Linked DNA regions of Homo sapiens. The protein of the gene in region 1 purifies or fractionates together with the protein of each later gene. This does not show direct contact. Each region holds a gene or a part of one and is shown on either strand. Other genes may lie near its edges.

Region 1 (4,458 bases):
CCCTATAAACTATATAGCCTTTTCATCCCTTTATTTTTCGAGACAAGGTCTGGTTCTGTTGCCCAGGCTGGAGTGCAGTGGCCTGATCTCAGCTCATTGCAACCTTCGCCTTCCAGGCTCAAGCCATCCTCCCACCACAGCCTCCCAAGTAGCTGTGACTGCAAGCGTGTACCACCACGCCCGGCTAATTTTTTTGTTTTTTTGTATTTTTTTGTGGAGACTGAGTTTGGCCATGTTGTCCAGGCTGGTCTCGAACTCATGAGCTCAAAGTGATCCGCCCACCTGGGCCTCCAAAGTGGTGGGATTACAGGGATGAGCCACCGCACCCAGCTTCATCCCTTTATTTAAATGTATATTCTTTCTAGAACAGTTTATAGATTTTACCAATGATGAGATCATATTTCAGAAATTTAGTTTCCCTACTTTGCTACTTACTGATCATCTTTTGATGTATTCATCCTATATTACAATATTGTGAAGAAGTGAAATTGTCAGAAGATGATCAATCAGAAATGAAACTAGAAGCTGTAGGTTCTTTATACCTTATACCTGTTGATTTTCAGGTTTATACATGTAAATCCATCATAGGACATTTTCCACCTCCCACTACCTCACCCGTGTATTCAGTTAGGTACCAAATTATGTCTGTTTCACTTTCAGTACCCTATCTCATTTGTCCCTTCCAGAATCTACTTAGTGTTTTGGCTCATCTAATTCCAGACCTTACCTTTATATACTGTTATAATATATCCCTAATACACTGTTGGCATATTATTATGTAAAAAGCATAACCTCATCATGGTGCTTAATTTTCAAATAATTTTAGAACTGTGTGGAATTCCATCTAAATGGAATGGTTTATTCAGTCGGTGTAGAGATTCCTTTTGCCTACAGTAATTTTATTTAACTGTATTGTTTAGGTTTGGCTGGTGTGGTAAAATACCGAGGTGTAAGGATCGGTGGAATCTCTGGTATCTTTAAATCTCATGACTATCGAAAAGGTATTGTTTTGAGAATTATTTTTAAACTTTAGAACTTGCATGCCCCAGAGTAAGTTAAGCATGATATGTACTTTGACTCTTTCATATATCTTTGTATCCTCGATATAGTTTTATCAAGTCTTAGTATTTTGCTTTTTTTTTTTTTTTTTTTTTTTTTGAGACAGAGTTTCGTTCTTGGTGTCCATGATGGAGTGCAGTGGTGCGATCTCGGCTCACTACAACCTCCACCTCCCAGGTTCAAGCCATTCTCCTGCCTCAGCCTCCTGAGTAGCTGGGATTACAGGCGCCCACCACCACGCCCGGCTAATTTTTTTGTATTTTTAGTAGAGACGGGGTTTCACCATGTTGGTCAGGCTAGTCTCGAATACCTGACCTCAAGTGATCCCACCCACCTCTGCCTCCCAAAGTGCTGGGATTACAGGCGTAAGCTACCACGCCCGGCCTGTATTTTGCTATTTTTTTATTTTTATTTTTAAGAAATAAAACAGTATAGATACAATTAAAGTTCATTGTTTATCTGTCCTCAATCCCGTTCCCTTCTTTTCTTCCCTCCCTGTCTTTGCCAGGCAGTCACTGTGTTGAATTTGGTGATTATAATTTACTTGATTATTTTACATCATTACCACATATGTAAGAACTTTAAACAATGTACTTGTTTTAAGCTTCATATAAATGTATCGTATTGCTTGTATCTTTCTCAAACTTGCTTCTTTGTTTAACATGCTTTGAAGTCTGTGTTGATACATGTAATCTAATCTGTTCATTTGTGAATAGTATTCCATTATATAAGTATATCACAACTGCATATTAATTTCATTGTGTCTGAATGAATTATACTTTGATTTCAAAGTTAAAGGAATAGCTTGGATTCACATCGATTTCACAAATTTCATGAATTACATTGACAGCTAAAACTTACATCCTGAATGTAACTGTTACAAGTCTGTTCCCTGCCACTTGGCTCTTTCTTATTCTAAACTGTTGGAATGGAGGTACAAAATAGGCTGTCTTCTCTGTGGCAGGTGTGGGTACAAATTGGAACCACTTTTGGGAAGCTGTTTATCAGGTTTTTCTATTTTATCTCAGGGATATCATTTATGCATATAATACACATATTTCTTTTTCGGCTTAAAACAACAATAATTTGTTATTTTATTAATATTGGGAGCATAAGGAACTAGTCTCTAGTCAACAGTTAGAAAGTAACTGAAGTGTGCCAGCAACCATGTGTGGGACCTTAGAAAGCAGATACACCCTTATTTGAGCCTGCAAAGGAAGGAGACTGCAGTCCACCATCTTTTTAAAAAATTTCCCTAGATAACTTTTTAAAATCGTATATATTGAAGGTGTACATGATATTTTGGAGACCTGTGTATATGTCTTTGTATTTGCAGTATTTAAGGAAATTAAATATAGCTTATTTTTCTGCTTCAATCTAAGGTCATTTTGAGTGCCCCCCTTATAATTCATCTACAATCAGGAGTATATATCATGTGAGAAATATTGAAGTCTATAAATTAAAACAGGTACGTAAAAAGCGCATTACAGCAGACTTGAAAACATTTTAAAGTAATTCTGTGCCAAAATGTATTTTGGTCATATTGGTATACTACTTTCAAGAAGAGCAATTCTGTATTTTTAAAATGTGGATCTTGAGTTTTTAGGAGGTTCACAGATGAACCTTTTTTTTTTCTTTTTTTGAGACAGAGTCTCACTATGTCACCCAGGCTGAAGTGCAGTGGCGCGATCTCGGCTCACTGCAACCTCCGCCTCCTGGGTTCAAGCAAGTCTTGTGCCTCAACCTTCTGAGTAGCTGGAACTATGGGCGCACACCACCACACCTGCCTAATTTTTTGTATTTGTAGTAGGGATGGGGTTTCACCATGTTTGCCAGGCTGGTCTCAAATTCCTGACCTCAGGTGATCCGCCTGCCTTGGCCTCCCAAAGTGCTGGGATTATAGGTGTGAGCCACTGTGCCCGGCAAAATTTTTTTTACTTCAATAATTACGAGTTTATTTTAGTAAGAATGAAAGATTTAATTCATGATTTCAAATATTACTTAGGTTAAGGCTAAAGAATACCTATTAAAGTGATATTTAAAATAAAATGTTAAAGTGATATTTTAAAGAAAATATTGAAATAAACATTTTATTTTATGTAATAGTAATTAAGTAATGGTATTAAATAGAAAATAAGTAATAGTAAAGATGATAGAGGAAATGGGAAAATTGTGAAGGTGGTATGGAAACACTGCTTAATTGCAGAGTAGGTGAAACTAGGTTGTTTGAGAACCCATTACATGGCTGACACTGGGCTAAACAGACTTCACACTTGGTATTTCATATAATCTCCACTCAAACCCTATGAAATAGATGTAACTCTTAACTTCATCCCTTTAAGGATGAGAAGCCAAGGCTCAGACAGGTAAGTAACCTGCCCAGGACTTCCCAAAGTTTAGTGGTAGAGCCTGCCTGACTGCACTCATGCCCATCACACTGTCTCTAGAGCCTCTGCAGGAGTCTAACAATTCTTGCAAGTGTTTCTTTTATGCCCTGTGCATACAGTTCCCTTAAATAGATTTTCTCTTTCACCTATCTAAATCCTACCAGTCCTTTAAGACCCAACTTAGATGCCATTTCCCAACCATGAGTTTTCTTCTTTTTTTTTTTTGAGACAAGGTCTCACTCTGTCACCCAGGCTGGAGTGCAGTAGTATGATCATGGCTTGACTCACTGCAGCCTCAATCTGCCAGGCTTGGGTGATCCTCCCACTTCAGCCTCCCGAATAGCTTGGACTATAGGCATGCATCACCTCGCCCAGCTAATTTTTTTCATATTTTTTAGAGACAGAGTTTCGCCATGTTGCCCAGGCTGGTCTCAAACTCTTGAACTCAAGCGATCCTTCTGCCTTGGCCTCCGAAAGTGCTGGGATTACAGGCATGAGCCACCATGCCCAGCCAGCCATGACTTCTCTAGTTTAGAGTCATTACCCTAGTTTGAATTTTTGTTGCATCTGTTGGCCATACCAGTTATTCAGTGGTTAGTCATATCTATCTAATATCTAATATTTTGTATTGTCTTGAGCAGTTATTTAAGTTTTTTTTTTTTTTTTTGAGACAAAGTTTCACTTCTGTTGCCCAAGCTGGAGTGCAACAGTGCGATCTTGGCTCACTGCAACCTCTGCCTCCTGGGTTCAAGCGATTCTCCTGCCTCAGCCTCCTGAGTAGCTGGGATTACAGGCGCCCACCACCACGCCCGGCTAATTTTTTGTATTTTAAATAAAGATGGGGTTTCACCATGTTGGCCAGGCTGGTCTCGAACTCCTGACCTTCAGGCGATCCACCCACCTCGGCCTCCTAAAGTGCTGGGATTACAGGCGTGAGCCACTGTGCCCAGCCGGTATTTAAGTTGTTTTAATTTCATTTTTCAAGTATTCGTTTCAGATTACTTGAAGGTTC
Region 2 (4,660 bases), on another chromosome or scaffold:
TGGGAGGCTGAGGCGGGCATATCACGAGGTCAGGAGATCGAGACCATCCTGGCTAACATGGTGAAAACCCTCTACTAAAAATACAAAAAATTACCCGGGCGTGGTGGTGGGTGCCTGTAGTCCCAGCTACTTGGGAGGCTGAGGCAGGAGAATGGCGTCAACCAGAGAGGTGGAGCTTGCAGTGAACTGAGATCACGCCACTGCACTCCAGCCTGGGCAACAGAGCGAGACTCTGTCTCCAAAAAAAAAAAAAAAAAAAAAAAGTAGGCCGGGTGCAGTGGCTCACGTCTGTAATCCCAGCACTCTGGGAGGCCAAGGCATGTGGATCACAAGGTCAGGAGATCGAGACCATCCTGGCTAACACCGTGAAACCCCGTCTCTACTAAATACACAAAAAATTAGCCGGGCGTGGTGGTGGGCGCCTGTAGTCCCAGCTACTCGGGAAGCTGAGGCAGGAGAATGGCGTGAACCCGGGAGGCGGAGCTTGCAGTGAGCCGAGATCGCGCCACTGCACTCCAGCCTGGGTGACAGAGCAAGACTCCGTCTCAAAAAAAAAAAGGTATTAGCTACCTATCTTTCCTTCAGCATGGTGCTGGTACTGAATATTCTCAATATTTACAATTCGGTCTCCCCCAAAAGAGAAGAAAAACAAGGGTTTTAAAAGAACCAAAGAAAAGACAAGGAATAACATTCTAGTGTAAGAAAAAATATTTTTAAAAATGAGAAATATTGGGAAGTTAAAACTCAGGATGGGTAAACTTTCATATAAATACACACTGGGGGGATGTGAGGGAAAAGGAAGGACCAGTTCCTCAATCATATTTCTCCATGGTACCACAATAAAGAGACAATCCCATTTTCAAAGAAATTAGCTTTTATTTGAGACTACTTTTCCCCACATGTATCTTTTAAGAATTCTATGCTATGTGATAACCTGCTTATCCACTGTCCCAATACCAAAATTTCTAACAGCGAATTATACAACTGCTCTAGGTAATAAATAAGGGTTGTCCTTCACTGATTAAGGGAATAAACTTCAATAAACTTAACAACAACAAAAAAAATCACACTTTAGTTTTTAAGTTTTAACAGATGTATTTCAAATACAGCATGTTTTACAGGAGTTCACAAGCTTTTCATCTCTAAAAAAAAACTTTCAACTACCTGACTGTTCCATTCCACCCCAGACAAACCTGACATGACTGAACTACTTCATGTGTTACTTTCCCAAAAATAAAGTTAAAAAAAAAAAGGAACTCATGATAAATGCAGATCTCTAATACAGTATCTAACACAAAAGAAGCTTTAAAAAGACAGTTTCTTTCCTTATTTGATTAGCTAGAAGTTTATCTAGGTAAAAGCAAAAAAAAAAATTTACAAAGCATAACATAACATTGGGGTTCTTTTTATACTCAAGATGTTTAACTGTTCAAAATGACAACAATTACATCTTTTAAGAGTATAATAAAATGGGTGGAAAACAGCAACACAACTGACAAAAGTGTAGATGCTAAATAAACCAAAGTTTTTTTCTTAAGGAGTAGGAAGAATCCACAGCTTGGGGAAATCTCAGAATTAAAAAAAAAAAAAAAAAAAAGAGGAAAAAAAATGTCCTTAATTGCAACCATTCCGTTATCAATAGCGTCCTAAAAGAGAAAAAGCAAAAAAAAAAAAAAAAAAAAAAAGTTAACAATTATAGTTTAATTTGCCTCATATTTTTCCAACTATTAACTGCCACCTTCCACCTTATACTCTAATATTCTAAAGTAAGCCATTAATTAGAAATGAGGTTTTTTATGCTACAAAAGTAAAGTTCACATACTTGGGCTGTAGGAACGAGATCTTGATCGTGATCTATATCGACTATAATAAGGAGAAGGTGATCGTCTTCTGTAAGAAATGAAAGATTACTTAGCATACTATATAATCACTCCACTGAGGCAGATGAAAATAAAAATTCCTCATCATTCAAAATAATAATGTACCTAAGGTGATAACTACTTAATATTAAGTTCTCTTTCTGCCAATGAGACCAGAAAAGTATATAGCACAACAAAATACTGACATATACAGACTGCTAACTTCTGCTCCCAAAGGCGTCATATATGATCTATTTTAAAAATCAAGTTTTTATTCATATGTATCCAACATAAAAGTGCCAAGTAACACTACTATCATCTAATTTAGAACAGAAAGCTCAAGTTAAAACATTACCTGTATCGGTAATCATAGTCTTCATATCTGTCATACCCACGATCATATCCTCTATCATAGTAAGAATCTCGACGTCTGCCACCACCTCCACCTCCACCGCCGCCGCCTCCTCCACCACCCCCACCACTACTGCAGAAAAATGTAAAAATTCTCCATTAGTGTGAATGACTATTTTCCAGGACACTTTAATACAAATTGAATGGCTTAAAAAAGAGAAAAGTGAGGAAGAACATCCCTTTCATGAGAAATTGCCTCCGTATCTCATTTTACTGACTCCCATGGTATTCTGGTTTGCCTTATTCCCTACATACATAATCAAGAAGGGCTTCACAAAACTCTCAAAACTATTAACTGCTTTTCTACTAATGCACTGCCCAAATTAAAATCTTTTCAACAAATTGAAACGATGAAGCACTGTGTTGAGCAGCAGTATAAAAATGCTAAGATGCATTCCTACTGCTAAATGAGACTGGTAAATAAATAAATAAATGAATAAAAGGTGTATCCCTGTGACTAAAAGGCAATAAACACCAAGAATTTTTAAGTAACTCTGGACACCAAAGAGAATACCAAGGAATGACTATATTCCTTCTTTTATTCCCAAGAAATACCTCTGTGAATACTGCCTTTGGTTGTATATTTTATTTTTATTTTTTGAGACGGAGTCTTGCTCTGTCGCCCAGGCTGGAGTGCAGTGGTGCGATCTCGGCTCACTGCAAGCCCTGCCTCCGGGGTTCATGCCATTCTCCTGCCTCAGCCTCCTGAGTAGCTGGGACTACAGGTGCCTGCCACCATGCCCAGCCAATTTTTTGTATTTTTAGTAGAGACGGGGTTTCACCGTGGTCCCGATCTCGTGATCTCGTGATCCACCCGCCTCGGCCTCCCAAAGTGCTGGGATTACAGGTGTAAGCCACTGCGCCCGGCAAATGAACATCGTGAGCCAGCCAGGAGGGTTGTATATTTAAAAACATTATCAAAACCCCTACTTATGTTTTTTTTCTTTTTTGAGAAAGAGTCTCACTCTGTTGCCCAGGCTCACTGCAACCTCTGCCTCCCAAGTTCAAGTGATTCCTGTGCCTCAGCTCCCGAGCAGCTGGGATTACAGGCATGTGCCACCACACCTGGCTGATTTTTTATTTTTTTTTAGTAGAAGCAGGGTTTTGCCATGTTGCCCCTTGCCAGAATCAATTCTAATTATAGGAAAAAAGTTTCTGAGTAATCAAAATTTTGCACATATTTCTGGTGGATTTCATAGTTTAGCTTAGGAAACTTGAACTCTTACTGAGTTGGTCTGCCCATGTAGATGCCTGGTGTTGGTGTGTGCGCTCTCTTGGTTATAGAATAATCCACCCGAATTCTTCTACCATCCAGCTCCATTCCATTTGCCCTTTCCATAGCCTATAAAGAACAGGCACAAAAAGTCACGTATAATTCACCAGTCTTGAAGTAATCATTACTTAAAATTAAGCACAAAGTATATGTAATCCAAATAAACTCCTGATTTTGAAAATGACAGCAATGTAGCTTGTACAGGGCATTGTATAGACAATTCTAGACCTCAACAATGTCCAGAACACATTTAAATTTACTCAGCAGAAAGAGTAGTTAATAAACTTTCCCAAATAATTTTCCAGTTCTGGTTCAATTCCCATTCCCCACTCCATGAGATCAACAAAGAGTAGTTAACAAACTTTCCTAAATAATTTTCCAGTTCTGGTTCAATTCCCATTCCCCACTCCATGAGATCAACAGGGGAGCGGAGACTGAAGTCTTTTCAAGCTAAATTTTTTGTAGGTTGCCCAGGTAGACTGCCATTTCATACTTTCTAGTCTCCAGCGATTTCACTTACAAAGACTGACTTCAGAACATTAAAAAGGGTTTGCTAAGCTTTATACATGTTCTTTTTATAACCTGCCCCCAATCTTATTCTTTAGTTTGCAGTCTAGTACACTGATTAAGACTCAGTGAGCAGCCAAGAAGAAATGATATAAACAGACAAGAACAAATTTATCGTAATGCCTTTCAACCTTTTATTGAGACTGAACTAATAAAAGTATAATAAACTAATAAAAACTACACAATTTTTATGTATCCACAAATATTTCTCCGTAAGAGTGTCCCATAAACTAAAGGTCATTAAAAAAAAAAAAAAAAAAAAAAGGAGGTCTCACTCCATTGCCCAGGCTGGCAGTGGATCATAGTTCACTGTGGCCTCAAACTTCTTGGCTTATGCAATCCTCCAGCCTTAGTCTCCTAAGTAGCTAGGACCACAGGTTTGTGCCACCATGCTCGGCTAATTAAAACAAAAATTCTTGGTAGAGAAGGGGTCTAAACAGTATTCCATTCAATGGAATGCATTTTATTATTTATTTATGAGACCAAGTTTCGCTCTTGTTGCACAGGCTGGAGTGCAATGGCGTGACCTCGGTTCACTGCAGCCTCTGCC
Region 3 (4,458 bases), on another chromosome or scaffold:
TGCCTGAGCCTGGGAGGTTGAGGCTGCAGTGAGCTGTGATTACGCTGCTACACTCCAGCCTGGGTGACAGAGCAAGACCCTGTCTCAAAGAAAAAAAAAAAGAGCTTAACTTTTTCTAAATCTTGAGTTAAATCATTTTTTTTCTAAAGATACTAGTCAGTTTCTAGATAGCGCTGCTCTAAAAATTTTGATATATTTGTGAGTAGTAAATCTAGGAAAATTCAGAAGACATTGGGAAATATTTCTAGTCGGGAGGGTAGGGCTGTGCTTTGTCAAATACTAGACCTAACTGGCATGACTCTTACTGCTTATTTTATTTTTTGCCTTAAAAAGGGAAAGCGCTCTAGCGAGTGCTGATTTAGAAGAAGAAATTCACCAGAAACAAGGGCAGAAAAGGAAAAATTCTCAACCTGGTGTTAAAGTAGCAGATAGAAAAATACTTGATGACACAGAAGACACAGTTGTCAGTCAAAGAAAGAAAATTCAAATCAACCAAGAAGAAGAGAGATTAAAGAATGAGAGAACTGTGTTTGTTGGGAATTTGCCTGTTACATGTAATAAGAAGGTGAGTTTGTATATGGTAAAAGTTCAGAGAAGTTAATAACTTTGTTCTTCCTGTGTTGAATAAGCATTCAATAGTAAGTCATGGATATAACTTCATTGTAAATTATTACATAAATCATCCTAATATGAATGGATTCCAGTATCCACCCCCTCCTTTTCATTCCTGTAGTCCCTGCCAATTCAGGCTTTTGCAGATTATATTTGAATATTGCAGTGACCTCCTGCCTGGTTTCTTTCTTTCAGCCTTGTCTCCTGTTATATGCCACTAGAAAGTAAGCTCCATATGTTTAAAGATGTCTTTCCTTTTTCTTTTCTTTTTCAGGACAGGTTCTCACTGTCACCTAGGCTGGAGTGTAGTGGCATGATCATTGCTCACTGCAGCCTCAAACTCCTGGACTCAAGTGATCTTACTGCCTCAGCCTCCTGAGTAGCTGGGACTACAGGCGCACGCCACCGTGCCTGGCTAATTTTTGTGTTTTTTTTTTTGTGACTATGTTGCCCAGGCTGGTCTCAAACTCCTGGGCTTAAGTGATCTGCCCTCCTTAGCCTCCCAAGGTGCTGGGACTTCAAGCATGAGCCACTGGGCCTGATCCTCTTTTTTCATCATTCTGTCTCTCTCTCTCTTTTTTTTTTTTTGAGACAGAGTCTCGCTCTGTTGCCCAGGCTGGAGTGCAGTGGCGCGATCTCTGTTCACTGCAAGCTCCGCCTCCTGGGTTCACACCCTTCTCCTGCCTCAGCCTCCTGAGTAGCTGGGACTACAAGCGCCCGCCACCACGCCCAGCTAATTTTTTGTATTTTTAGTAGAGACGGGGTTTCACTGTGCTAGCCAGGATGGTCTCGATTTCCTGACCTTGTGATCCGTCCGCCTCGGCCTCCCAAAGTGCTGGGATTACAGGCATGAGCAACCGCACCCAGCCTCGTTCTGTCTCTTGACACCTGAAATGGTGCCTTGTGCATAGTAAATATGTGTTGTTTAAAGAATGAAGATGTCCTGAGTTTCTTCCGTTGTGTGACGATCACTGAAGCAAAACCTGCCCTTTGCTTCTGCATGTTCATGTGATAGTAACTGTTGCAATCCTTAGCTCGGTATCCTGCTCATATTTTGAAGGACAGTTTAAACTCTACTTGATTAAAAACAGTAGAAAAACCTTTTTGAGGCCAGGCGTGGTGGCCCACACCTGTAATCCCAGCACTCTGGAAGGCCAAGGCGGGCGGATCCCCTGAGGTCGGGAGTTCGAGACCAGCTTGGCCAACATGGTGAAACCGCTTCTCTACTAAAAGTCCCAAAAATTAGCTGGGTGTGGTGACACATGCCTGTAATCCCAGCTACTTTGAAGGCTAAGGCAGGAGAATTGCTTGAACCCAGGAGGGGGAGGTTGCAGAAGCCAAGATCGTGCCACCGCACTCCAGCCTGGGTGACAGTGAGTGAGACTCTGTCTCAAAAAAAAAAAAAAAAGTTTATTCCTGGTTTAAACCAATGTGAAAACATGAGAGAATCTATGGAAGTTATAAGTCTATCCTTAATTTACATGTGATAAAGGTTATAAAAGATTGAAAGAAAAGCATACATCCGATGGATACTAATAGGAGCTTGAATTGTGTTTTCTTTTTTTTTTTTTGAGACAGAGTCTCACAAGTTTCAGTAAAATTTTTTTGTTCATCCAACTGAATAGTCACCTACTTTCCTGAAATGTTCTTAAAAACTGGCAGTAGGCCGGGTGCGGTGGCTCATGCCTGTAATCCCAGCACTTGAAGAGGCTGATGTGGTTGCATCACCTGAGGTCAGGAGTTTGAGACCAGACTGGCCAACATGGCGAAACCCCGTCTCTACTAAAAATACGAAAATTAGCTGAGCATGGTGGCGGGCGCCTGTAATCCCAGCTACTTGGGAGGCTGAGGTATGAGAATCACTTGAAGCCGTGGGGGCGGAGGTTGCAGTGAGCTGAGATCACACCACTGCACTCCAGCCTGGGCGAAAGTGCAAGACTCTGTCTCAAAAAAAAAAAAAAAAGCCTGGCAGTAGAGGATTATCAGACAATTTTTCTTAATTCCTTTTTGTAGCACTTATTTGATGTTCTGAAGGTCAGCTAATGTGTATTTTTTTTTTTAATTTTAGAAGCTGAAGTCGTTTTTTAAAGAGTATGGACAAATAGAATCTGTACGATTTCGTTCTCTGGTATGTTTCATTCCCCCGTAAAATTACATAATATTAAAATTTATTGCATTTAAATCAGATGAACTTATTGCTGTTAGTGAGATGGTGAAGCACTTTAACCTTTTGAATCAATAGGTTCAAATTTAACCCAAGAAAAGAGTTGCTCTTACTATCTACTGCTGACTCTTGAACTTTTTAAATAATGTATTGAGTTTACTTAATAAAATGATACTCTTGCTATGAAAGCCTGCAATGTACTTTGGAGGGTGGATGGGTGACTTATTTACTGTGTCAGCAGAATAGACTGAAAAGTTAATACTGATTATCATTGCTGGAATCCTAGGCATTCTCTTCCTATGTCCCATCATACACATTAGTATGGGAGGTGGGTATGATTGCTGCAAACAGTCTTTGTTCTCTGAGCACAGACAGATAAAGAATTTATGTCAATTTAATATTAAAACTTTATAGAAGTGAGTTGGATTTTACCAGCTCAGCACTCTGAACCAGTTATAGCCACATTCTTTGGAGCAGGAAATAAGTATCATTTATATTTGGTTTTCCCATACATGATTTTTTTTTTTAACTGCATAGGCATAGTTAGTTGACGTACCATAGTGTACATTTTTGGGCACTATTACATAATTAATGTATATTAGAATATAGGAAATGTTTATTCTATTTTTTTTTTTGAGACAGAGTCTCGCTGTGTCTCACCCAGGCTGGAGTGCAGTGGTGCGATCTCAGCTCACTGCACCCTTCGCCTCCTGGGTTCAAGCAATTCTCATGCCTCAGCCTCCCAAGTAGCTGGGATTACAGGTGTGCGCTACCATGCCCGGCTAATTTTTGTATTTTTAGTCCGGACAGGGTTTCACCATGTTATCCAGACTGGTCTCAAACTCGTGACCTCAGGTGATTCGCCTGCCTCAGCCTCCCAAAGTGCTGGGATTACAGGTGTGAGTCACTGCACTTAGCCTTTTTCATGTTTCTAATTGCTCTTTCTCATGTGATTCTCTGGAATAGAGTTTCTCAACCTCCATACAGTTGACATTTTGGGCTGGATAATTCTTTGTTGTTGGAGGCTGCCCTTTGTATTATAGGATGTTTAGTAACATCCATGGTCTTTACCCACTAGATGCTGGTAGCACCTCCTGCACCTCAGTTTTCACAATGGAAAATATCTTCAGGAATTGCCAAATGTTAGAGGAGGCACAACTGCCCACTTCTATAGAAGTAGACGTTACCCAAAGCTTTGACAGTGCCCATAATTTCTGTCAGGGTATTTATTTCCCACTCTTATCACATATCTTTTGTCTGCCCTTCTGAGTTCCATTTCCCTGTATTAGACCTTTGGCTGATGCATTAGTGTGGGTGTCTTGCCAGACCCTGATTTCAATATATCTGCTTACTTCCATCCATTCTCACCCCAACCCTATGCTGCCTACTGATTTTTCTGTGGTATTTAGTGGCACCCAGGCTGCAGGTTTTGTGGTTGCCTTTGACTCTTCATTGGCTCACCCATGCTAGTGTTTGCCACTCCTGTCCGTTTTTCAACTGTGATTTCTTCCTAATATGAGTCATTCCTTTCTTTTTTCCTTGTCCTACCTAAGTTCTCATTACCTCCTGTCAGAATAGTCGCAGAGGCCTATTGTAGTTCCTTACCTTCAGTCTTCCTCTAATTTGTCCAACAAAACACTGTGAACTCAGTCTTCCTGAAGCTCTTCTTCCCGGAACCCTTA
Region 4 (4,458 bases), on another chromosome or scaffold:
AGGTAGTATATAGCATTGTACACTACACACCCTTCAAAATTTCCTCCATGTCACCTTCCATCATTGTAGTGTGTACTCTGGAGCTGAACTCTGAGTTTAATCCCAGCTCTGCTACTTGTTAGCTGTGTGCCCTTGGGCTGGTTATTGGCTTTCTCTGTACCTCAGATTCCTCATCTGTAAAATGGAGATATTAATAGTGCCTACCTCATAGGGCTGTTGTGAGGATTAAGAGTTGATGTATGTAAACTGCTTAGAATAGTGCCTGGCCATAATTAGTGATATATGACAATGGTATCTGCTGTTTTAAAAATCATAGTGTTGTCCTTCCTGCAAAGCAAATCACTGGTGAGTGGTACACTGTTAAACACCAGTATTATCCAGATTGGGTACCAATGTATTATGGAGTGAAATAAATGTATTTGACAATTACAAGTGAAGAATTAAACTGAACAAAATATCTCCAATGGTCTCATGAACTCTATCAGGTAAACAATAATATGAACACTTAACAGCTGCAAAGCCCTCTGGTACAACGCAGGGTAGGGTAAGAAGAAAGTCAGGAGAACAGTACAAAATGTTAGGAGAAGGAAAAGGATTAAATTGCCACATTGACCTGAAAAGAACTTCTGAAAGGATGGCATTTGGGTCAGGAGTTGAAGGAATAATAGCTTTTTGGTTGTGGAGAAGTTGAATTTCACTATGAGGGTTGGGACCATTCACGTAAATATTGATCAATAGGTACAGATCCCCTGTTATATACCAGGGACTAGACAAAATGCTCAAGATACAGCGTGGAACAGATGACTCTCCTCATAGTGTTTAGTTGTAGAAGAGACTGAAAAGGTGAAAGTCATTGGTAATCCTACTACCCAGTAAAGACCCAATGAATATTTGTTCCGTTTAAAAAAAAAATACACACGTGTATGTAGTTTTCCCCACAAAATTGGGAACATGCTGTGTAATTACACTTTTGTGTTCTACTGGGTTTTTTAAAATACTAAATTACAAGCATTTCCCCATCTAGAAAAAGTACTGATAATATGTAAGATGTCCCAATTTGATAAAATAATTTTAAGATATATAATCTACTGCTTCTAGACCTGTTCTAGAAGTTATTTGTTAAATTATTCTAATTTATAGTCACCTGCTAAATTTAAGCATCTAATTACATGTCCAGTGTAAAATTTAAGAAGTGTGTGCGTGTCTACTGACAGCAAGACAGTTTCCTAAGTGCTCTGTAGGATATGCAGTTTACACCTGATAAGAATAGTAAGAGAAACTTGTCATATTTTGTTATAGTTGAATATTTTCTTTTAATAGATTCTACCCTTCTGAAAGGTGGAGTGTGTATCCTATTATTTGTTCTCAAATTTACCTGTGATGTTTCCCACCTTGAAGCCATGCCTCCTTTCTTCTTTTTTTTTAAATTTTTTATTTTACTTATTATTATTATTATTATTATTATTATTATTTATTATTATTTTGAGACAGAGTCTCATTCTGTTGCCGAGGCTGGAGTGCAGTGGTGTGATTTCAGCTCACTACAACCTCTGCCTCCTGGGCTCAAGTGATCTTCCTGCCTCATCCTCCTGAAGAACTGGGACTGCAGGCCTGTGACACCAAGCCCAGCTAATTTTTTGTATTTTTTGTAGAGACGGGGTTTCGCTATGTTGCCCAGGCTGGTCTTGAACACCTGGACTCGAGCAATCTACCTGCCTCGCCCTCCCAAAGCGCTGGGATTACAGGCGTGAGCCACCCCACCTGGCCTCCTTTCTTTTTACCAGTGTGCAACGTTTAAGTTGGAAAGAGACAACTTGTTAATAGTGTTATTAGACCAGTCCCTAGAGGCTTTTAAAACTGTTATGCAGAATGTACATGTATCTATGAATGTTTTCTGTATTGCCCTCTCCAAAGAGGATGTCTTAGAAGACTAATGCAAGTTTAGGTATAAAATGTGTTAGCAATTTTATTTGTATAGAAGTTTTAATAACATTAATCACATGTTGTGTGATTTTTTGTTTCATCTTATTTTGCGGTTTTTGTTTTATCCAAGTCTATAACCTTTAAGACATCAACATGTTATTTAAATTGTTATGAATTAGTCTAGAATTTGGTTTTCAACCTCTTTTTCTACTCTAACATACCTGCTGGTAGCAGTGGCGCACCATGGCAACCACAGAACTTTGGAGCAATGGTTGTCAAATGTGTCCCAGGACCAGCAGTGGCAGCAGCATCTGGGAACTTGTTAGAAATGCAAATTCTGAGGCTCAGGCTGGACGCGGTGGCTCACGCTTGTAATCCCAGCACTTTGGGAGGCCGAGGCAGGTGGATCACCTGAGGTGAGGAGTTCAAGACCAGCCTGACCAACATGGTGAAACCCCATCTCTATTAAAAATACAAAAATTAGCGGGTCATGGTGCAGGCCTGCCTGTAATCCCAGCTACTTGGGAGGCTGAGGCAAGAGAATCACTTGAACCCTGGAGGCAGAGGTTGCAGTGAGCTGAGATTGCGTCCACTGCACTCCAGCCTGGGCAACAGGGTGAAACTCTGTCTCAAAAAAAAAAAAAATAGTTCTCAGGCTCTACCCTATACCTACTGAATCAGGGACTCTGGGATAGAGCCCAGCAATCTGTATTTTAATAAACCCTCTAGGTGCTGCAAATGCATGCCTGAATTTGACAGCCGCTACTATAGAAGATGAGTGTTTGTAACGCATTACATTGCAACAAGTAATTTCTGAAGAATCTTAGCTATTTGGTTCTAGTAAATTATTTTTTTAAATTTATTTTTGTTTGTTTTTGAGACGGAGTCTTGCTCTGTCACCCAGCCTGGAGTGCAGTGGCACGATCTCAGCTCACTGCAACCTCCGCCTCTCAGGTTCAAGCAATTCTCCTGCCTCAGCCTCCTGAGTGGCTGGGATTACAGGCACCCACCACCACGCCTGGCTAATTTTTTGTTATTTTTGGTGGAGATGGGGTTTCACCATGTTGGCCAGGCTGGTCTCGAACTTCTGACCTCAGGTGATCCACCCATCTCGGCCTCCCAAAGTGCTAGGATTATAGGCATGAGCTACTGCACCCAGCTGGTTCTAGTAAATTATTAGTAGTAGTTAAAGGGCTAGATATGCACCAACACGCCTGGCTAATTTTTAAATTTTTCTGTAGAGGCGGGATCTTGCTATGTTGCCCAGGCTGGTCTCAAATATTTGGCTTCAAGCACTCCTCCCACCTTAGCCCCTCAAGTTGCTGAGATAACAGTTATGGGCCATTGTGCCCAGAAGTTGGTTGAATGTGTAACCACTATCAGTGATTAATCTTTTAGGATACAGATAGAGCCCTTTAGAATCTAGAGAACGTTATAGCACATATATACACACGCTAAGTGCATAATATTTTTATACCATTTCAGGGATTTTGTTGAAGTTGAGATTAGCTGATGGACTCAAGAACCTCTTAACAACCTTAGACTACTTTATGATTTCCTCTTGCCTACAAAGAACCTCTAGCATTTTTGGCTAGGGGAGTGGAGTGAACAGAGGGGAGAAGTGGGGATTTGATAGAGCAAGAGTAGGTACTCAGTTGGCTTCTTCTGTTGGTTTGAATGAAGTGATGGAAGCCATGCCTATGAAATTTATAATAACCTGGAATTTGGAGTAGCAGCAAAAATGTTTAAGTTGGTATCAAATCCCAAAAAGATCCTGTCAGGCAATCATGATGAGTCACATTAGAAAGATGATGGATGTAAAATCCTGCCATTTGGTCCAGAAAGCCAGTGCACAAGTAGAGGAGGGGACATAGCTTAGCCACAAAGTGATGGAGCTTCCTCTGCTAGCCCTTTGTGAGCCAATGGTAAATGGGTGCTAAATAAAACAACTAGGTCTTGAGATACATTAATTGTAAATGTCACAGAACCAGTACTTTCCTCAATGTGGCTAAGATAGTTGATGGTTCCTTTTTCTTCTGCACTGGTCAGACCATATCTGGGCTATGATGTTTGCTTCTGGGCCACACACTTTAGAGGGAAGACAAGCAGCATGTTGGAGTCTGTTTAGGCGAGAGATCCGGCAGGGGAAGGAGTCTTGGTGAATGAGGGGTGGAGGAGCTGCAGGATGGGAATAGAGGCCTGAACTGCTACCATGACATATTCAAAAGGCTGCCGTGTGAAGCCAAGTTATGCTTGTCTTTTGTGGTCCCAGTTGATCACATTAAGACCTCATGGGGCCATAGAAAAGCTAGAGGGAGACTGATTTGGGTTATTCATAAGAAGAACTTTAAGTCTGTTATCTGAGGGTAGAATGAGAGGCATGTTTTAGATTCTTTAGATTCTTTACTCTTCTGACAATCATGTGTTTTTGTAGCTGTTTCCTTGTGGTCATATTAATTCTGGTACCACTTCATGAACCTTTTATTACCCATCTTTGTTTTCTTTTTTTTTTTCCCTTCTTAACTCCCTGTTTAA
Region 5 (4,458 bases), on another chromosome or scaffold:
AGAAAGGTGAGTGACTGGGAGCAGGACTTGGGAGAAGGTGGCAGGGTAGAACTGTGAAATGTCAGGACTCCAGGGGACTGCTGGAGGAGCTTTAGGTGCCACCTCTGAAAAGTCAATGGGGAAACTGATGGATGTAGGCTGGTGAGATAGCAGTCTTCAACCATCTGTCATTAATCAGTCCCTCCTTTCAAAAAACCTGCTGAAATTTTGGCTTCTCTAATGCTGATCTAGAGTAACCATGGTTTAAACAAGATAAAACTTTCTTTCTTTGATGTAACAGCTTGGTGTAAATACACCAGGCCTGGTATGGCAACTCCTGAATCCCTTCAGCTTGCTGTGGTACACCGGTTCTTCATATCATCACTGATGGCTTCCTATTTCCTTCTTCTTCTAGCTAGGAGGAAAGGAAGAGGGAAGGGTGGCCCCTTTCCTTTTAGGGACTCAACCTGGAGTTGGTTACTTCAGCTTAGCTCTCGTAGGCAGTGTTTTGGCACCTGTCTATAGGGACTCTGGAAAGCATGGTCTTCATCCTGGGCTGCCATGTGTCTGACTCCAGAAGGGGATTCTGTGGCCATGGAGACACTGATCTTGGGAGTTAACGAGGAGTCTCTAACACACTGACGGCCACTGACCAGCTTATTTTAGAGATGAAAAAGAGGGCTAATGTGTGGGAAAGGGATCTGCCCAAGGTAACCAGATTGTGATTTGGGCCCAAGTCCAGGGCAGAAGAAGAGGAGTTGGGTAGAGCTGGCTAGGAGTGGCCTCTCCCTCAAGCCTTTCTCATGTACCCATGCTGTCTCCCAGGAAACAAACACAAGTGGGTTCCATTACAAATAGACATGAAGCCTGAAGTGCCCAGAGAGAAACTGGCTTCACGCCCCACTCGCCCACCGGAGCCTAGACACATACCTGCCAATCGCGGAGAGATCAAAGGTATGCACTACCCACTATGGAGGGCCTGGACTTGGGAGACACCCTCAGGCCTGACCTGGTACCCCTCTCCCCATAGGGTCTGAGTCTGCCACCTACGTGCCCGTGGCCCCCCCCACCCCAGCCTGGCAACCAGAGATCAAACCGGAGCCTGCCTGGCACGACCAGGATGAGACATCGAGTGTGAAGAGTGATGGGGCTGGTGGGGCGCGGGCTTCCTTCCGTGGCCGTGGACGGGGGCGTGGTCGCGGCCGGGGACGCGGCCGGGGTGGCACTCGAAGTACGTGAGGCCCCTTTGGGCTCCGGGATGTCCAAGGGTGTGCAGCAGGGGTGGTGGGCAGGAATCTCCTCTCCCTCATGGCACCCGTTTCCCCCATAGCCCATTTTGACTACCAGTTTGGCTACCGAAAGTTTGATGGTGTGGAGGGGCCTCGTACGCCCAAGTACATGAACAACATCACCTACTACTTTGACAATGTCAGCAGCACCGAGCTTTACAGTGTGGATCAGGAACTGCTCAAAGACTACATCAAGCGCCAGATGTGAGTGTGCGGAAGCCTTCTTACCCTGGAGAAATGAGTGAGAGGTTAGGGGTTGCTAGAGTGTCATAGCTGGGCAGGCCCTTCTGGTGCTTAGCAGCAGTTTCAGCCTCAGGCTGAAAAGATAGCTTTTCTCATTGTTTATTAAAGAAGTGATACCACATTCTCATTGTTTATTACAGAAGTGGTACAACATTTACCTTAAGAAAGTTAGAAACTATACCATTACAAAAAGGAAGGAAAATATTTAGAATCTACCCCCTTCTGTTCTTCCATTTGTAATGACAACATTGACAGAATACTAACATTTATTGAATCCTTAGTATCGGCCAGGCTCAGTGTTTATTGTTGTAGAGGCATTATCTTAGTCCTGCAGTTCTTATCTGTTGAATTCCTATGAGCTGAGTCTTTTAGCCCCAGTTTATAGACAAGCAAACCGGCCCAGTAATTTGCACAGAATCTCACAGCTAGTAAGTAACAAAGCACAGATTTAAATCCTTTTCTGTCCTATTATAGAACCTTTGTTCTTAACCACTCTGATATATTGTCTCTCAGTCCAGTAAGGAAGTCATACAAGAAAATAAATGGTTGCAATAGAGTGTTTATAAGTGTTTTAGGAGCAGAAGAGAAAGTGACCAACAATATTTGGACTGGAATTTAAAGGAGGATGAGGAGTTTGACAGGCATGTCGAGGGGCTTAGGGCAGAGGGAGTGATTTGACCCAAGCAAGGTAGGGTGTCATGAAGGGATCACATCATTTCTTTTCAGCCCTCAACACTGTTGGTATATAGGATAAGGATGGGGTAGGTCAGAGGCTGTGTGAGATTGCTGGGGTGTGTAGCAGAACAAGGAAGGCATACTCATAAAACTGATGCACCAATCCCTCGGTGATAACTACTTCTTCCCTCCACTTAGTGAATACTACTTCAGCGTGGACAATTTAGAGCGAGACTTCTTCCTGCGAAGGAAAATGGATGCTGATGGTTTCCTACCCATCACCCTTATTGCTTCCTTCCACCGAGTGCAGGCCCTTACCACTGACATTTCACTCATCTTTGCGGTATGTCTTCCTCCCTGGAGCTGGGATGCAGGGGAAAGAAAGGTCCTTAGGGAGCTGGAGTTTGGGCCAAGGCAGAAAGCCCTGGAAGAGTCATCATCTGATGACTTCTGCTGAAGTCTCAAGGCTTGGCTAGTCTCCTCCTCTCCCTCCTTCCTTCCTTTCTCTCCCTCTCTTGCTCATTATGGAAAATGTCAGACACTTAACAAAAGTAGAGTAGTATAATGAGCCCATCATCAGCTTCGGCAGGTATCAGTTTATGGCTAATCTTATTCCATCTGTACCCTCATCTGTTTATTCTCACATACTACATTGAAGAAAATCCTAGAAAACCTAGCATTTTGTTCACAAATATTTCAGTATAGATTTCTAAAAGATAGACTTGTTAAAAGAAAATAGCCACAGTATCATTATCATACCTAAATTAACAGTTTAACATATTAACAGTTCCTTAATATCATCAAATATTTAGTTCAGATTCATCCCAATTGGCGCCATATATATATTTATATATATATTTTATATATATTTATATATATTTTATATACATTTATATATAAAATATACATTTATATATATTTATATATTATATATTTATTATATATTTATATTTATATATTATATATTTATATATTATATATATTTTTATACATATTATATATTTATATATTATATATTTTTATATATATTATATATTTATATATTATATATATTTTTATATATATTATATATTTATATATTATATATTTATATATAGTATATATATTATATATATATTTTATATATTTATATATAGTATATATATTATATATATTTTATATATTTATATATTATATATATATTTTATGTATTTATATATTATATATATATTTTATATATATATATAGTTTGTGAGAATCAGAATCCAAATAATACCTATAGGCTGGGTGCAGTGGCTCACACCTATAATCCCTGCACTTTGGGAGGCCAAGGGGAGGGTCATGTGAGCCCAGGAGTTCAAGATTAGCCTGGGTAACATAGCAGGACCCTGTCTCTACAAAAAACTAACAAGACCTGTGTATTGTCTTATTAAGTCTCCTCTTGCCTCTATTTTTCTTTTTCTTTGCCGTTTATTATTTGAATAGACTAAGTTGTACATCCTGTAGGATTTTCCACAGGGCACAGGGATGTCATTTTAACATGTTCATCTGTACTCCAAGTTTTTTGTAAATTGTGATCTAGAGGCCTGATCAGATTCAGGTTTTGAAGTTTTTTCCCCTCCTTGTCAAGAATACTTTATCATAATGATGTATTTTCTCTCAGGTGGCACATAACATTTCATTTGATTGTCTCTCTTGTGCTATAAGCTGCCAGCAGTGTTCGTTAGGATTGCAAAATGACAATATACTAATTCTGTCAGTCGGTCTTCATTTATTAGGTGGAATACCTCTTCAAGAAGTAACTTTGCCTCATCAACTGTTCAGTTACCAAGAGGTATAGTTTGTTCAGGAAGGGCAGATTAATGTTTGATCTTCCTCCCTTTGTTAGCCAGTTTGCATAATTATGAGTTGATCTCTAATAGGTTTCATAGGTGACCAGTGAGATTTGGTGGTTTGTTTTCGTATCATTTGTTATTATAAGCTTATGGGCTCAAACGTATTTATTTTGGTCCATTGCAGTTAATGGATTGGATCAAATTGTCCCACCTTTGGTCAGTGGGACCCTATACATTTCCTGCCCCAGATCTGGAATTGGCCACTTTTAAAAGGAATTCTAGTTCCTTTCTTTTGGGAAATGGTATTTAGATACCAGTCTGAGTTATAGGGGTGCTTTATTGCTACTTGGTTGGTCATTCTTTCTAGATGATTTTTTTGTTTTTTGGTGAGATAAAATACATCATGGAGTTATTCTGTTTTGTTGTTGTTGTTTTTTTTTTTTTTTTTTTTTTTTTTT
Region 6 (4,458 bases), on another chromosome or scaffold:
TAAACTACCAGTTCAGATGTTGTGTTGTGGAATTGTGGACCTAGTATTATATCCAACCTGAATGAATCAGCTTTTATCTGAAAGTGACCTGAGAATGACCAGTTGGGTTTTGAAATGAATAATAAAACATATTATCTACTAATACTTAGCATAGATGCCACCTGGTGTTTCCTGTGGGTACTTCATAATACTTACACATCTCTCTGTGATCTCTTAATTCTCACTTCACAGTCTGCTTCTCAGTTGACATAGGTGGTATTATTTCCTAGAAGAAGGTTAATTGAAAGTAAGTTTCAGTAACAGTTTGTAATTTAGTTGCATTCAAAACAAATCTGAATATGATGTATAAAAAAATGTGACTTCTTAGAATGATTAATAATTTATTGTTCAAGGCTAGGAAAGACTGTTGACTATTGCTATTTGTATCTTAATCTGAATTTCTGTTTTGAAGCCAAATAAATTGTAGTTGGCATTCAAAAATTTGAATTTTAAAGTTTTTTTAAAATGATCTTGGCTTCTGATTCCTTTAAGTTCTATGTTCTGTTGATTTGGGGCAGTTTTGTCATTACTTAGTATTTTTTAGAAGGTCAGCAAAAATAGAAAATGAAGACAAATGAATCTGTATTTATACTTTGCTGAAACACTGGATTAAATTAGAAGATGAATCTGATTAAATGAATTTTCCTAGAATTTCAGCTTTTCTAGAGTTATTTGCCAGTGGTAACATGAGCATTATTTCTCTGTTGCTGCATTTTATAGGATAATTAAGGTATATGTATAACAGATGGATTTTTGAAATAGGTGAAGGGTAACTTCAATGAAGAGTCCTTAATTTGGAGTTAACAGAATGCATACCGACTAAGAGAATTGTGTTTGTAAAACACAATTTTACAAACACAAAGTGGTTCAGAGCTTATTATGAAACCACAACTGTGAAACTATATAATATCGTCAGTTTAAGTTTAGGCTTGGTTATGACAAATGGCACAATTTAATTTTAATTTTCAAACCAAATATAAATGTAACAAATACATTATTATATTTATAATGGTGAATTCTCTCTGTCTTCTAATAGGACGTTGATGCTACAAACCCAAATTATGAAATTATGTGTATGATCAGAGACTTTAGAGGAAGTTTGGATTATAGACCATTAACAACAGCAGATCCTGTAAGATTCTTTGTAAACCATTATTCTGGAACTTTTTATGCTTCAAATAAAAACGTGTTTGACACTTGCTAAATTCATATTGTGTTCAGCTATGTAGTTTTTCCTTTCCTTGTGGGTGCTCATTCCCCATATTTTAAGAAGAAAATCAAGAAATTATCCACATTAATGCTTATTTTCCATAATTTGGTATATGAGATATGCTCCCTATAGAGATGTCCTTCTCGAAGCAAAACCTCCCTGTCTTTGGGAGGGCAAAGCAACACTTAAAGGAGTGATAGCAGAAGACTCACTTTCCTTTCTGACTGTGAGTTATACTTTGATCTCAGTTCCAAGCTTATCTTTGTCTTGGGCTGTAGATCCCACCATCATTTCTAATTTACTATTGGTAATTTGTTAGTTTTAAATGTTATTCTGGCTTTTAACAATAAGTGATGGTTGTTGAGGGCTGCAGTGGACCAGAAATCTAGAACTGGAAAAAATCCTCTGCTGTTATTACTCAACTCCTTTGCTGTTGATGAATGAGAATTCATTGGACAGGGAGTGCCTTTTTTTTTTTTTTTTTGAGATGGAGTCTTGCTCCATCGCCCAGGCTAGAGTGCAATGGTGTGATCTCCGCCTCCCAGTTCAAGCGATTCTCCTGTCTCAGCTTCCCAAGTAGCTGGGACTACAGGCGCCTGCCACCACGCCCGGCTAATTTTTGTATTTTTAGTAGAAACGGGGTTCACCTTTTTGGTCAGGCTGGTCTCGAACTCCTGACCTCAGGTGATCCACCCGCCTCGGTCTCCCAAAGTGGGAGGCCTGTAATCATGCCTGGGATTATAGGCGTGAGCCACCACGCCCAGCCGGGAATGCTTTTATAACTAATTTGTACTTATAAAAATAATCCATCTGACATAGCATATACAGAATGTGTTAGTTACAAAAAAGACATTTGTGTTAGATAGATGTATTATATAGAATTGAATAGAATTGTTGATAATACTTGTATCCCACATATTTTAGGCCTTGCTATTCCTTCATGTGTTTCACTTACTGCATTAGAGCTCACCCTTTAGGACAGGAATTGGCAAACATTTTCTGCAAGGGTCTTTGGCTTTGGAGCTATATGGTCTTTGTCACAACTACTGAACTCTGTCATTGTATTGTAAAAGCAGCCATAGACAATACATAAATGATGGGTATGACATTTGTTTCAATCAATGTGTGTCAGTAAAATTTTGCAGAAGCAGGTAGTAGCTAAATTAGACCCACAGGCCATACTGTGCTAATCCTTGCTTTATGTTAATTATTATTAAAATGAGGCATGTATTGGGAACAAAATTTTTATAAAAAATACTTATGCATAAGAATTGGCATATTTATAAAATAGTTCAAATTATTTGGCTCAGTAATCGTCTGAGAATCCTGTTTCTTGCCATAGTTATCTTTGCTAGCAACTTTCCCTATGATCAACCTATGAAAATATGTCACTTAGTAGAATAGAAATGTTGACTTTTGTTGTGTATAGCACATCTTGAAGTGGATAATACAGCTTTTTTTTTTTTTTTTTGGAGACACAGTCTTCTCTGTTGCCCAGGCTGAGGTGGAGTGGCAGGATCTCGGCTCACTACAACCTCCACCTCCAGGGTTCAGGCAATTCTCGTGCCTCAGCCACCTGAGTAGCTGGAATTACAGGCATGCACCACCATGCCCAGCTAGTTTTTATATTTTTAGTAGTGATGGAGTTTTACCATGTTGGCCAGGCTGGTCTTGAACTCCTGACCTCAAGTGATCCACCCACCTTAGCCTCCCAAAGTGCTGGGATTACCCACCATGCCTGGCATCACAACTTCTTTTTTTTTTTGGTCCAGAGATAAAGTCTCACTGTCACCCAGGCTGGTGGGCAGAGGCATAATCTCGGCCCGCTGCAACCTCCACCTCCCAGGTTCAAGTGATTCTCCCACATCAGCCTCCCGAGTAGCTGGGACTACAGGCATGCACCACCACTCCCGGCTAATTTTTATATTTTTAGTAGAAATGGGGTTTCTCCATGTTGGCCAGGCTAGTCTCAAACTCCTGACCTCAGGTGATCTGCCCACCTTAGCCTCCCAAAGTGCTGGGATTATAGGAATGAGCCATCATGCCCGGCCTCCTCACAGCTTCTTAATGTGAACTTAATGCTACTAACAATAGTAGTACCCTCTACAGAATTATTTCCTAAAGTGATGGTTTTCCAAATAACAAAATAAGCAAGTTTCCATTACACTCAGAATTTTAGAAGTAATTATATCTGACAACCATTAAAATTTGTGCAAAGCTAATTTGTTTTTTAAGCTTACCTATCATTTATGCTATGTATAAATTTCTAAAACCCCTGGAGGAAATATTACATAATTTACGTTTTAGTGTTTTACATGACACTAATAATCACTGAAATAAAATACTTTTTATTTCTAGATTGATGAACATAGGATATGTGTGTGTGTAAGAAAACGACCACTCAATAAAAAAGGTATGGCACTTAATGAGCTCTAATAAAAGATTGATTTTATCTTATTTGTAATGTATTTTTATAATAGCAAATCAAATTGGTTTGGAAAAAATGTAAATCATTTCCTTTGATTTGTATGTAACCATTATGCAGATTTCTATGGCTAAACTTGTCAGTTTGTTATTGCTCTGAATCATTGCCATTCCGAGTCTTGCTTCACAGAAATCTTGATTTTGTTTTTACTTTGCTGTTGAAATATTTTGTCTTAGTGAGTTGCATTTTTATGGGATATTATCTTTATATGTACAGAACTTACTACTTGTATCTTAGTTCTTACTACTTAAAATAATTTTGTACATGAACTCAAATGCTGTGAAAATTATTGGGCATTGATTTTCATTTATTCTTTTAGAAACTCAAATGAAAGATCTTGATGTAATCACAATTCCTAGTAAAGATGTTGTGATGGTACATGAACCAAAACAAAAAGTAGATTTAACAAGGTACCTAGAAAACCAAACATTTCGTTTTGATTATGCCTTTGATGACTCAGCTCCTAATGAAATGGTTTACAGGTAGGTAAATTCATTTTAAATCAGAATTTTGTTCTTATGCCATGTGGTCATCAGCACCTTGAAATTTACATTGATTGTGGGATATTTCTTAAGAGGTGCAATATGCTGTTTTATTCTGAGTTTAAACAAAGAGAATGTAATAAATGCTGTAATGAATATTAACACTTGTTCTCTGTAATGCTCCCCAAAATCATAGTTTCCATTACTATTTGCTAATTAGCTTATTACACATATATATACAT
Region 7 (4,458 bases), on another chromosome or scaffold:
TTCATGACAATGAACTGAAACCAGAGGAGACACTCAAGCAGAGGCCAGGTGGCCTTGAAGTATGATTCCATGGCTAACCCTAAAGAAAAAGACATAGGGTTTTAAAAATAGAATCAAAATAAATGCAGCTGTTTTTTGGTTCCGGGTCACTCCCTGCAACTTCACTGTATCTCCCTGACAATGTAATTTTTTTCTGCAACAGAATTCCTAAGTTGCTATGGATTGGCAGATAATAATTACAATTACAGTTGTCTATTAGGCACCTTTCCATAAAGACCAAGATAGGCAGGTTAAATTTGTGAAAGAAAAATGGAGGATTCTGAATGTGCAGCAGAACTTTACTACTTGCTATTGCCCAAAGCAAAGATTCTAGTCACATCCTCAGAAAACTCTGCAACAGGAGACAGACCTGACCTATTTTGGAGTCAGGCAAACCTCCCTTTTTTTTCTTCCTTTTCTGCTGATCTTCAACAATTTACTTAACTCAGTTTCCTCACTTGTAAAATACAAATGATATGCCTATCTGCAGAGTCACTGGGAGAAATAAATGAAATGACTTAAAGTATATGTATGCTATCTGGCATGTAGTAGGAGTTTAATAAATTATAGTTTACATACACCAGAAGAGTACTTGCCTCGCTTTTCCTTGTATGGTACTTTTTAATCTTATTATTAAACTAACCCCTGTGGTGGTGTGGCTACATTCTTTGAGTTTAGAAAACGAGATAAAGAATTGCTCATATCTTCCCAAATTGTGTAGTATAAAAAGAATGCTGTCCTGGTTGTTTTTTGTAGAATATGGAAGTCCCTGCAGTAAGTAGGCAACATGCTACCCTTCTATTCAACACAGCACTAGAACAAGGCAAGTGGGACCTTTGTCGACACATGATTCGATTTCTTAAAGCCATTGGCTCTGGAGAATCTGAGACACCTCCATCCACACCCACAGCTCAGGTTAGTTGCAAAAGTTACACATCTTCTCTAGGCCATACACCCACGTAGCATCTTTCTCTAATGGTACTGCATATGGTGTGTAATCCTAGGAACCCAGTTCAAGTGGTGGATTTGAGTTCTTCAGGAATCGAAGCATCAGTTTATCCCAGTCAGCTGAAAATGTTCCTGCCAGTAAATTCAGTTTACAGAAAACACTAAGTATGCCATCTGGTCCCTCTGGAAAAAGGTAAAATAATAAAGAGCCATTACTGCTTTTTGGGCATTCATGACACATTGCATTTCAAGACATTTACAAAATTAGGTCTTAATGGAAACAACTATTTAATCCAATTGCAGTTTCTTTTTCCATTCCCAAAAAGCAGAGGCCACACAGAAGGCTTCCCTTTTTCCTTCCTCCCAAGTTCACTTCAGCACCCTCTGAATAGTTTCTGCCCCTTTTTCTGGAATAGATCTTCATGTACCTGTTCTGAATGTAACAAACTTGTTTAAGACAGAGTCTCACTCTGTCACCCAGGCTGGAATGCAGTGGCACCATCTCAGCTCACTGCAACCTCCGCCTTACAGGTTCAAGCGATTATCCTGCCTCAGCCACCCAAGTAGCTGGGATTACAGGCATATGCCACCACACTCGGCTAATTTTCATATTTTTAGTAGAGACGGGGTTTCAACATGTTGCCCAGGCTAGTCTCGAACTCCTGGCCTCAAGGATCCACCTGCCTCTGCTTCCCAAAGGGCCGGGATTACAAGCGTGAGCCACCCTACCTGGCCAAATGCTACAAACTTTTTTTTCCCATAAGTTACTGGGGTCCAGGTGGTATTTGGTTACATTAATAAGTTATTTAGTGGTGATTTGTGAGATTTTGGTGCACCCATCACCCAAGCAGTATACACTGCACCATATTTGTTGTCTTTTATCCCTCACCCCCTCCCAGCCTTTCCCCCAAGTCCCCAAAGTCCATTGTATCATTCTTATGCCTTTGCGTCCTCATGGTTTAGCTCCCACATATCAGTGAGAACATACTACATTTGGTTTTCCATTCCTGAGTTACTTCACTTAGAATAATACTCTCCAATCTCATCAGGTCACTGCAAATGCTGTTAATTCATTCCTTTTTATGGCTGAGTAGTATTCCATCATATATACGTATATACAAGTTTCTTTATCCACTCGTTGACTGATGGGCATTTGGGTTGGTTCCACGATTTTGCAGTTGTGAACTGTGCTGCTATAAACGTGTGTGCAAGTATCTTTTTTGAATGACTTCTTTTCCTCTGGGTAGAACCCCAGTAGTGAGATTGCTGGATCAAATGGTAGTTCTACTTTTGGTTATTGAGGGAATCTCCACCCTGTTTTCCATAGCAGCTGTACTAGTTTACATTCCCACCGGCAGTGTAGAAGTGTTCCCTGATGGCCACATCCATGCCAACATCTACTGTTTTTTGATTATGGTCATTCTTGCAGGAGTAAGGTGGCATTGCGTTGTGGTTTTGATTTGAAAATGCAACAAACTTTTAAATTACCTCTGATGATAGAGGACCAAAAGGAAGATAGATAAATCTGTAGGTAATCCAAAAGCCTTCTTAAAGTCGTAATTTTACCTTTCCTTCTAATTATACTTTTTGATATAAATTTAGTGCTAATGCATTTGACACTCTTGTGACCTATTGATTAGAGAAGTTATTACACAGTCGGGGAGCCAAATGAATTGTATGCTGGAGACTGAAACTGCTATCACCCATAGATGGGATATTGTCTTCTGAGAGATGACTATGAATTCACACTAACATTATAAAATCATGAGAATTTCCTCTGGTTTGTGAGGCCTGTGTATTCCTTCCTATGTTCTTCTGTTGTTGTCTCATTTTTTTCCTTACCTAATCCTTTGTTTTATATTGTTCATATTCTCTTTTTTTTTTTTTCCCCAGGACAACATGAACATATGTTTATATTCTTACTACCGTGCTTGGGCACATAGTGAGAGCTTATTGAACGTTTGTTATTGTCATGTTTTACTGGGTTTTTTTGTTTTTTGAGATGGAGTTTCGCTCTTGTTGCCCAGGCTGGAGTGCAATGGCTTGATCTCGGCTCATCGCAATCTCCGCCTCCCAGGTTCAAGTGATTCTTCTGCCTCAGCCTCCCAAGTAGCTGGGATTACAGGCATGCACCACCACGCCTGGCTCATTTTGTATTTTTAGTAGAGACGGGGTTTCTCCGTATTGGTCAGGCTAGTCTCAAACTCCCGACCTCAGGTGATCCGCCTGCCTCTGCCTCCCAAAGTGCTGGGATTACAGGCATGAGCCACCATGCCCAGCCTGTTTTACTGTTTTTTAACAAGTGCTTACTACATGCCAGGCCTTATTCTAAGCATTTACATACATAGGTCCTATTTTAAACAACTCTATGAGGGTTATCCACATTGTATAGGTGAAGAAACAGAGGCCTAGGAAAATAAACTTAGTTATGTTCACACAACAAATGAGTGGCAGAGCCAAGATCCGAATCCAGGCAGTACTGCACCAGAGACTAGGCTCTTTACCCCACCACTAAACTGCCTCTCACTTAAAGCACCACATTATCCAGTTACCAAACCAGTTCCCCCACATTAGCTCATGTAAGTCAGGAATGAGAGACTATACTTAGGCAAGTTGTAATTTTTAAAAATTGGTTTCAGGACTGGCAAGGTGGCTAACACCTGTAATTCCAGCACTTTGGGAGGCCAAGGTGGGAGGATTGCTTGAGGCCAGGAGTTCAAGATGAGTCTGGGCAACACAGCAAGATCCCATCCTTGCAAAAATAAAAATACATTGGCTAGGCATGGTGGCAAGTACCTGTAGTCCCAGCTACTTGGGAGGCTGAGGTGGGGAAGATAGCTTGAGCCCAGGAGTTTGAGGTTGCAGTGAGCTATGATCACACCACTGCACTCCAGACTGGGTGACATTGTGAAACCTTGTCATTTAAGAAAAAAAAAGTTGGTATTCTTTTCATATGTCTGCATGACTCACACTGAGAAATTTAATTTCACTTTGCCTCTCTATCCTTAGTTTCTTTGATGTGCTCTCCTTCCCTCTTTTCATTGGGCTTTTCAAATATAGCATAGAGGTTTGCTGCCTTTCTTTCTGTCAGCCACCCATCACCTGCTTCCTGGTCTGACTTCTTCTGTCCCCCTTTTCCTGTTCCCTGTATTCATTCTACAAATGTGTCTTAAGAGCCTTCTGTGTTCCGAGGGTTGTGGTGTAACACGGAGGAGAAGCGTTGATACTTTATCTTCATTGTCAATCAGAATTAGATCTTGGATCTCTTATCTCCTTGTCAGCTTTATCAGTACCTCTGCGTAATAAGGATGTGAAATCCTCCAGTAAAGATTATTCTGTAGCTTTCTTGTGTTTCCACTTACAGATGGAGCAAAGACAGTGACTGTGCTGAGAACATGTATATTGACATGATGCTCTGGAGACATGCTCGGCGCCTCTTAGAAGATGTGAGGTTAAAGGACCTTGGCTGCT

The links.
Region 2: the proteins of DBR1 (region 1) and TRA2A purify together in Homo sapiens (affinity purification with mass spectrometry, with the first as the bait; one large-scale study listed by BioGRID). This does not show direct contact.
Region 3: the proteins of DBR1 (region 1) and RBM34 purify together in Homo sapiens (affinity purification with mass spectrometry, with the first as the bait; one large-scale study listed by BioGRID). This does not show direct contact.
Region 4: the proteins of DBR1 (region 1) and MYH10 purify together in Homo sapiens (affinity purification with mass spectrometry, with the first as the bait; one large-scale study listed by BioGRID). This does not show direct contact.
Region 5: the proteins of DBR1 (region 1) and LARP1 purify together in Homo sapiens (affinity purification with mass spectrometry, with the first as the bait; one large-scale study listed by BioGRID). This does not show direct contact.
Region 6: the proteins of DBR1 (region 1) and KIF2A purify together in Homo sapiens (affinity purification with mass spectrometry, with the first as the bait; one large-scale study listed by BioGRID). This does not show direct contact.
Region 7: the proteins of DBR1 (region 1) and RIC1 purify together in Homo sapiens (affinity purification with mass spectrometry, with the first as the bait; one large-scale study listed by BioGRID). This does not show direct contact.

Annotation. Positions count from the first base shown.
Region 1 is NC_000003.12:138,168,176-138,172,633, reverse strand, and holds part of DBR1 (lariat debranching enzyme), read left to right. Parts: intron 1-920; coding exon 921-1,001; intron 1,002-2,441; coding exon 2,442-2,527; intron 2,528-4,458. UniProt on the Homo sapiens protein: Cleaves the 2'-5' phosphodiester linkage at the branch point of excised lariat intron RNA and converts them into linear molecules that can be subsequently degraded, thereby facilitating ribonucleotide turnover.
Region 2 is NC_000007.14:23,503,924-23,508,583, forward strand, and holds the end of TRA2A (transformer-2 protein homolog alpha), read right to left. Parts: intron 3,613-4,660; coding exon 3,497-3,612; intron 2,344-3,496; coding exon 2,215-2,343; intron 1,891-2,214; coding exon 1,823-1,890; intron 1,647-1,822; coding exon 1,636-1,646; 3' UTR 857-1,635; downstream 1-856. UniProt on the Homo sapiens protein: Sequence-specific RNA-binding protein which participates in the control of pre-mRNA splicing.
Region 3 is NC_000001.11:235,150,988-235,155,445, reverse strand, and holds part of RBM34 (RNA-binding protein 34), read left to right. Parts: intron 1-333; coding exon 334-565; intron 566-2,680; coding exon 2,681-2,740; intron 2,741-4,458.
Region 4 is NC_000017.11:8,623,593-8,628,050, reverse strand, and holds part of MYH10 (myosin-10), read left to right. Parts: intron 1-4,458. UniProt on the Homo sapiens protein: Cellular myosin that appears to play a role in cytokinesis, cell shape, and specialized functions such as secretion and capping. Involved with LARP6 in the stabilization of type I collagen mRNAs for CO1A1 and CO1A2.
Region 5 is NC_000005.10:154,792,791-154,797,248, forward strand, and holds part of LARP1 (la-related protein 1), read left to right. Parts: coding exon 1-6; intron 7-804; coding exon 805-933; intron 934-1,009; coding exon 1,010-1,210; intron 1,211-1,309; coding exon 1,310-1,472; intron 1,473-2,384; coding exon 2,385-2,529; intron 2,530-4,458. UniProt on the Homo sapiens protein: RNA-binding protein that regulates the translation of specific target mRNA species downstream of the mTORC1 complex, in function of growth signals and nutrient availability.
Region 6 is NC_000005.10:62,354,084-62,358,541, forward strand, and holds part of KIF2A (kinesin-like protein KIF2A), read left to right. Parts: intron 1-1,075; coding exon 1,076-1,171; intron 1,172-3,607; coding exon 3,608-3,662; intron 3,663-4,053; coding exon 4,054-4,216; intron 4,217-4,458. UniProt on the Homo sapiens protein: Plus end-directed microtubule-dependent motor required for normal brain development. May regulate microtubule dynamics during axonal growth. Required for normal progression through mitosis. Required for normal congress of chromosomes at the metaphase plate.
Region 7 is NC_000009.12:5,764,619-5,769,076, forward strand, and holds part of RIC1 (guanine nucleotide exchange factor subunit RIC1), read left to right. Parts: intron 1-795; coding exon 796-954; intron 955-1,043; coding exon 1,044-1,180; intron 1,181-4,351; coding exon 4,352-4,458. UniProt on the Homo sapiens protein: The RIC1-RGP1 complex acts as a guanine nucleotide exchange factor (GEF), which activates RAB6A by exchanging bound GDP for free GTP, and may thereby be required for efficient fusion of endosome-derived vesicles with the Golgi compartment.